Homo sapiens: one gene and its partner. The protein of the gene in region 2 interacts with the protein of the main gene of each other region in a pairwise test. Each region holds a gene or a part of one and is shown on either strand. Other genes may lie near its edges.

Evidence for each region. The genes of interacting proteins can lie anywhere in the genome.
Region 1: the proteins of CFAP206 (region 2) and ANKRD55 interact in binary tests that used the Homo sapiens proteins (3 or more experiments, as listed by UniProt).

What each region holds. Positions count from the first base shown.
Region 1 is NC_000005.10:56,226,622-56,230,372, forward strand, and holds part of ANKRD55 (ankyrin repeat domain-containing protein 55), read right to left. Parts: intron 1-3,751.
Region 2 is NC_000006.12:87,410,858-87,414,608, reverse strand, and holds part of CFAP206 (cilia- and flagella-associated protein 206), read right to left. Parts: intron 800-3,751; coding exon 709-799; intron 1-708. UniProt on the Homo sapiens protein: Essential for sperm motility and is involved in the regulation of the beating frequency of motile cilia on the epithelial cells of the respiratory tract. Required for the establishment of radial spokes in sperm flagella.

The DNA of each region.
Region 1 (3,751 bases), on a different chromosome or scaffold from region 2:
AACTTAAACAAATTTACAAGAAAAAATCAAACAACCCCATCAAAAAGTGGGTGAAGGGTGTGAACAGACACTTCTCAAAAGAAGACATTTATGCAGCCAACAGACACATGAAAAAATGCTCATCATCACTGGCCATCAAAGAAATGCAAATCAAAACCACAATGAGATACCATCTCACACCAGTTAGAATGGCAATCATTAACAAGTCAGGAAACAACAGGTGCTGGAGAGGATGTGGAGAAACAGGAACACTTTTACACTGTTGGTGGGACTGTAAACTAGTTCAACCATTGTGGAAGACAGTGTGGTGATTTGTCAAGGATCTAGAACTAGAAATACCATTTGACCCAGCCATCCCATTACTGGGTATATACCCAAAGGATTATAAATCATGCTGATATAAAGACACATGCACATGTATGTTTATTGCAGCACTATTCACAATAGCAAAGACTTGGAACCAACCCAAATGTCCATCGATGATAGACTGGATTAAGAAAATGTGGCATGTATACACCATGGAATACTATGCAGCCATAAAAAAGGATGAGTTCATGTCCTTTGTAAGGACATGGATGAAGCTGGAAGCCATCATTCTGAGCAAACTATCGCAAGGACAGAAAACCAAACACCACATGTTCTCACTCATAGGTGAGAACTGAACATTGAGAACACTTGGACACAGGGTGGGGAACACCACACACCCGGGCCTGTTGTGGGGTAGGGGGAGGGGGGAGGGATAGCATTAGGAGATATACCTAATGTAAATGACGAGTTAATGGGTGCAGCATACCAATATGGCACATGTATACATATGTAACAAACCTACACACTGTGCATATGTACCCTAGAACTTAAAGTATAAAAGAAAACAAAAAACAAACAAAAAAACCCCTGCACATCTGTGCGTGGGAACTTTAAAAATCCACAACACAATGGAATAAGAGCTTGATTGTGAAAATAAATGTTTCATTAATTTGATTTTCCATTGATGTCTTTTTTTTTTTTTATTAAACCTTATTGCTGGCCAAGGAAAAGACATTCTGCAGTAGAAAGAACACCGGTTTTGAAGTGAAACAGATTTAGCTTGGAATCCTAGCTTTGCTGTTTTACTTTGTGACAACATTGGGTAGGTCATAACCTTTTTGAATTTCCTCATCGATAAAAGGGGGTCATATGTGAAGCTGATATGAGGATTATATGAGCTAGTCTGTGTGCAGTCCTTAGGACAGAGCCTGGATCTGCTAAATGCTCCATAAACATTCGCTCTTGTCAATATGTATCCATGTAAAGCCCTGCACAGAGTCTGCACCAAACAGATGCTCCCCGCTTCCCCCACCTCTTACTTGCCAATTTTTCTCCTAGCTTAAATGAGAATGGATTTTACCAAAAACCGAGTCACAGTGTTGCGTGCTTTCTGGGATCTGACCTCTTCTCACTCCCTGCAATGGGTTGAATGGTGGCCCTAAAGACATGTTCTAACCTCTAATCCTGGAACCTGTGGCTATTCCCTTACATGGCAAGAGAGTGACTATGACCTTATATCTGAAAGGATGTGACTAAGCCAAGGACTTTGAGAGGAGGAGTTTATCCTGGATTATCTGGGTGGTCCCTAAATGCAATCACATGCATCCTTAAAGGAGAGGCAGAGGAACTTTGAAACAGGTACACAGAGGAGCGATGCACACAGACGAGGCCAAGTGAAGATGGTGGCAGAGACCAGAGTGATGAGGCCACAGCAGCCAAGGCTGGAAGGACCAGGGAAGATTCTTTCCTAAAGGTTCTAGGAGAAGGCCCCCAGCTGACTTTTTTTTTTTTTTTTGAGGTGGAGTCTTACTCTGTCACCCAGGCTGGAGTGCAGTGGCGCGATCTTGGCTCACTGCAACCTCCGCCTCCTGAGTTCAAGCAATTCTTGTGCCTCAGCCTCCCAAGTAGCTGGGACTACAGGCGCATGACACCACATCCAGCTAATTTTTTATTTTTACTAGAGACAGGGTTTCACCATGTTGGCCAGGCTGGTCTCAAACTGTTGATCCTAGGTGATCTGCCCACCTTGGCTTCCCAAGCTGCTGGGATTACAGGCATGAGCCACTGCACCCGGCCTGCTGCTGACATCTTGATTTCAGACTTTTGGGCACCAGAACTGTGAGAGGATAAATTTCTGTTGTTTTAAGCTACCCAGCTTGTGATAATTGGTTACAGCAGCACAGAGACAATCACACACTCTATTAATCTGGGCTAGAAGACAAAGCCCTTCCTCTCTTTTTCCAGCAACTCGACAAGAGAAACGACCTGTGCAAGAGGGTGGACCACAGCCCACACAGGTGTGTGCAAACACACCGCTCAGCCTCGTCAGGCATATTTCCTCAGAGACCCTGGCACGGCCAGGCCCTCCTCACCCCCAACAATACAGAAGAGTGGGTGAGGCCCTGAGGCTACCCATCCCCCCACCTCCCGCCGACCCCTCGCCTGTTTTTTTTTTTTTTTTTCCCTGTTTTCTCTCTCAGGTTTGGGATTCTTTCAGGCGCAGCAAAACTTTTCTTTCCACAAGTCGTGACAAAGCTTACAATGCAAGTATCTTCAGTTACATAATATGTAGACTTTAGCAGGAACCTCTGTGTTCTGTAGTAAATGGCTTTACTACAGGTCGCTTCCTGCGTGTGTGGGCTTTGAGAGGGAACACAGCTGGAAAGAACACGTGGGACCAGAAGAGATGTTGCTATGGTGAAAGCTGAAGGCACAAAAGAGAGTCGAGAGTTCTGAAGACCCAGGCTTCCTCCCTCACAGTTTTGCAAAGCCAGCCAGAGACCATGCCCCTGGCCAGTCAAATGATCTGATCGTTGGGCCTTCCAGCAGCTCTGTGAATATGTAATATAGTATTATCCACATTTACAGTCAAGGAGACAGAAGCCAGTGGAGATCAACTAGTTTGTGCAAGTTCATGTAACTAGGAAGAGGGCAGAGACAGGACTTGAGCAAATGACCATCTGTCACCAAGACCCTGGCATGCCTCGTTGCCTCTAGCTAAAGAGAAATATAGGAAAATGCATGTGGAGGGGTTCAGTCTTACCAAACCCACCTCGTTGGAGCCCTGAAGGTCCTTCTGCATCATATTCTTCCACCATTCTCTGGGCAGCCATGAGCCAGAGTCAGTGCTAGGCCAGGGATTGGCCATGTGCAGGAAGCTTCCTATTGCCCTGTTGTATGGATGGAGAACACCTGGGCCTCAGTCCCCTCTGTTGCTATTTAGTGGGGTGTTGTTATTATTATTAGGAAGGACCCAACTTTGAACCTCTCTGTGCTTTAGTTCCCTCATCTGAAATGTGGAAGAGGGGTAGGTTGGATGACTGGTTCTGCATCTTTGCTGTCCATGAGAACTTCCCAAGGAGTGTTGGTTGGGCCAACCACTGCAGTTAAACTGGAATCTCCCTGGGTGGGATGCAAGCATCAGCATTTTCAGAATTTCTTCAGATGATTCTTTTTTCTTTTTTTTGAGACAGAGTCTTGCTCTGTCGCCAGGTTGGAGTGCAGTGGCCTGATCTCAGCTCACCGCAACCTCCACCTCCCAGGTTCAAGCGATTTCCTGCCTCAGCCTCCCGAGTAGCTGGGACTACAGGCGTGTGTCACCATGCCCAGCTAATTTTTGTATTTTCAGTAGAGACAGGCTTTCACCCTGTTGGCCAGGATGGTCTCGATCTCTTGACCTTGGGATCTGCCCACCTCGGCCTCCCAAAGCACTGGGATTACAGGC
Region 2 (3,751 bases):
TACATAATGAGCCAGGCATGGTGGCTCACACTGATAATCCCAGCACTTTGGGAGTCTAAGGCGTAGACAGATCGCTTGAGGCCTGGATTTCGACACCAGCCTGGGCAACATGGTGAAATCCCGTCTCTACTAAGAATACAAAAATTAGCTGGGCATGGTGGCACACACCTATAGTCCCAGCTACTCGGGTGGCTGAGGTGGGAGAATTGCTTCAACATGGGAGTCAGAGGTTGCAGTGATCTGTGGATCGTGCCACTGCACTCCTGCCTGGGTGACAGAGCAAGACTCTGTCTCAAAAAAAATTTACATATTGAAACGTTTTCTAAACTTAAACTCCCCATCGTTCATTTTTGAATAGTTACATAATTTAGGTAATTATAATGAGATAATAACATAAACCAGGAACAAGAAAATCTATAAATTAAAAACTTTTAACTTCAATGGGCTGAATTCCTAATTATTATGTATTAGTGCCACTGGAAACAATAATTATGAGCACAATAATTGGAATTCACTTTTAACACTCACAAAGGCCAATGGTTTTTTTTCATTTAGCATTTCTAACGTTGTATTCCTCAAAGTTGATTGCCAAAAATTAAATTGTTAAATTGATTAAACAATTAAATTCATTGTCAACCAAATGAAGCCCTTCTTAGCTGAAACACAGTATGAAATTTTTTAAGTATAAAAATAGGTAGTATACATTACCTCGATTCGTATAATTCATATCGAAGTAGACTTGCATCTTAATAGTGTCCAGGGATGGATTTTTAGTATCCAATAGCCGAGTCATACAAAGCTAGAAAAGAATGTCCCATGAATACTTCTAGTTATAGTTTTTGAGACAGTCAAGTATTTCCTAAAGTTATTTTCAAAAATAAAGGGAAAAGCAGTGGTTCCTGATATTGATTCACCAATAACCCCTTTTATTTTTTTTTTCTCCTTGAGGACTTCAGGCTTTATAGTTTATTTAACCAATAACTTTTTTTATTTTTATAGATTTAGGGGGTACAAGTGTCATTTTGTTACATGGATATATTGCGTGTAGTGGTGAAGCCTGGGCTTTTAGGGTAGCTAACACCTGAATAGTGGACATTGTACCCATTAAGTGATTTCTTATCCCTCGCTCCCCTCTCACCCTCCCAAGTCTTCAATGTCTACTGTTCCACTCTCTATGTCCCTGGGTACATATTATTGAGCTCCCACTTATAAGTGAGAACATGTGGTATTTTACTTTCTGAGTTATTTCACTTAAGATAGTAGCCTCCAGTTCCATCCATGTTGCCACAAGACATGATTTCATTATTTTTTATGGCTCAATAAAACTCCATTGTGTGTATGTGTGTATACATTTTCTTTATCCAATCATCTGTTGATGGACACTTAGGTTGATTCCATATCTTTACTACCAATAACATTTGTTAAGTAATAAGTTATTTCCCTTGAGTTAACCAATAATCATCATGCCAGGTGGCTAGTAGTCTAGTTGAAGGCAAGAAACCTGATGTTTTGGTTAGTTTGAGCAGTCTAAATGTGGGTAAATGTTCCACAAAGCTTATATTCCAGTCTAAAACTCTTCTAGAGTTCCTCATTACTATTTATTTGTGCCTTGAACAACACTCCTCATTTTATTTTATAAAAAGCTGCTGCAGCTGGTGCAGTGGCTCACACCCGTAATCCCAGCATTTTGGGAGGCAGAGGTGGGCAGATCACCCGATGTCAGGAGTTCGAGACCAGCCTGGTCAACATGGTGAAACCCGTCTCTACTAAAAATACAACAATTAGCCAGGCATGGTGGCACACACCTGTAGTCCCAGCTACTCGGGAGGCTGAGACAGGAGAATCGCTTGAGAACCCGGGAGGTGGACATGGCAATGAGCCAAGATCATGCCACCGCACCCCAGCTTGGGGGACAGAGCGAGACTCTGTCTCAAAAAATAAAATATAATTAAATTAAATTAAATTAAAATTAAAAAGCTGCTGCAACCACCCCCCTCTCTTCACAAAATTTCTCTGGTTCTACCCTTGATATTTCTTCTCCTGGTCTGTTTTCTCCTATGAGCCCCCACATAGATGGCTCATTCCCCTTCTCTGCCTTGCCTCTTTATATTGAATATCAACCTCAGTTTTTCTTTCCTTCTCTCATCTCTACTGGTCACCTCCCTCCCCCACTTCCTTCACTGCTCACTCTGTAGGCTGAATATACTGCAGCTGGCAGGCACTTGGCAGCATCACTCTCAACCCATCTCCCTGAGCACCAGCCCTGCTTTCCTGGGAGGAGGGAGGGGAGAATGCAAGACTGAGGATTGGACACTATGTCTTTGCAGAAGCCTGTGCACCTGGATCCCTCCACATACAGAAGTACTGTTCTAAAATGCACACTTAAAAAAATAGCTCATCCACATGATTTTTAGTTGAGAAAAAAATTGTCACTTGAATATAACATATGTTGTTAGTTTATGTACCTGTCGTACTAAAAGTATATTGGCTTGATTCTTTCCAACTTAGTTGAGTTGGGGAATTGGGGGGAATGGAAAACTCTTCTTGGGTCATGACAAGGAGAACAACTTATTTTCTGCCCCTCCTGGATTCTCTTCCACGGCTTTCCAATAAAATTTCTGACTGCCACAATCACTTCCCCTATTGCTAAGAACAAGCTTTATACCATCTTTTCTCTGCATCCTCACCAATATCTGTTATGTTTTTACTTTTTAAAGATATTCTAACTGGTGTAAGATTGTATCTCATTGTCAGAATAGAAAATCCAGACACAAAGCCACATACCTGCAGTCAGGTGATCTTTGACAAAGTCAACAGAAACATACACTGGAGAAATGACATCCTATTCAATAAATGGTGCTGGGAAAATTGGATTACCATATGCAGAAGAATGAAACCCATCCCAATGTCTCACCATATACAAAAATTAACAACTCAAGATTGATTAAAGACTTAAATGTAAGACCTGAAACTATAAAAATAACAGAAAAAAACCTAGGGGGCTGGGCATTGGCCTACGCAAAGAATTCATGACTTAAAAGTAAATGCAACAGAAATAGACAAATTGGATTTAAATAAACTAAAAAGCTTCTACACATCAAAATGAATAATCAACAGAGTGAAAAGACAGCCTGCAGAATGGGAGAAAATATGTACAAACTATGCATCTGACAAAGGACTAATATTCAGGATCTACGAGGAACTCAAACAACTCGACAACAACAAATAACCCCATTATAAAGTGGGCAAAGGCCATGAATAGATATTTTTCAAAAGAAGACATACAAATCGCCAAAAAGCATGAAAAAAATGCTCAACATCACTCAGCATTAGAGAAATGCAAATTAATTTAGTTCTATTTAACTTCACAGTATATGACGAACTAGTTAATGTTTGCAATGTAAGACATTAGTAACAAGGTTTCACTAAAATACTGTAGCAGATGCTGCTACCTGCCCAATTTCCCTGCCCTTCCTTCCTTACTAACAGAGCCTCAATTTGGATTGGGGCAAGGATTTATTCATCTAAGAAAGAAAAAAGAAGTGAAATGTCCCTGGGTCACTTACAATATCATTCTGGTCAATAAATGTTAAGTAGATGGGAGGGATTCTGGGAAAATTATTATTTTCTGGATAGAAGGTGATAGACCCAATTGGCACACATATTTTGCCCTTTGTCTTTCCCCCTTCTTTCTGCCTAGAGGCAGGGTAGCTATCTTTTGACCACCAGATGACCATATTGCAAGGATGGT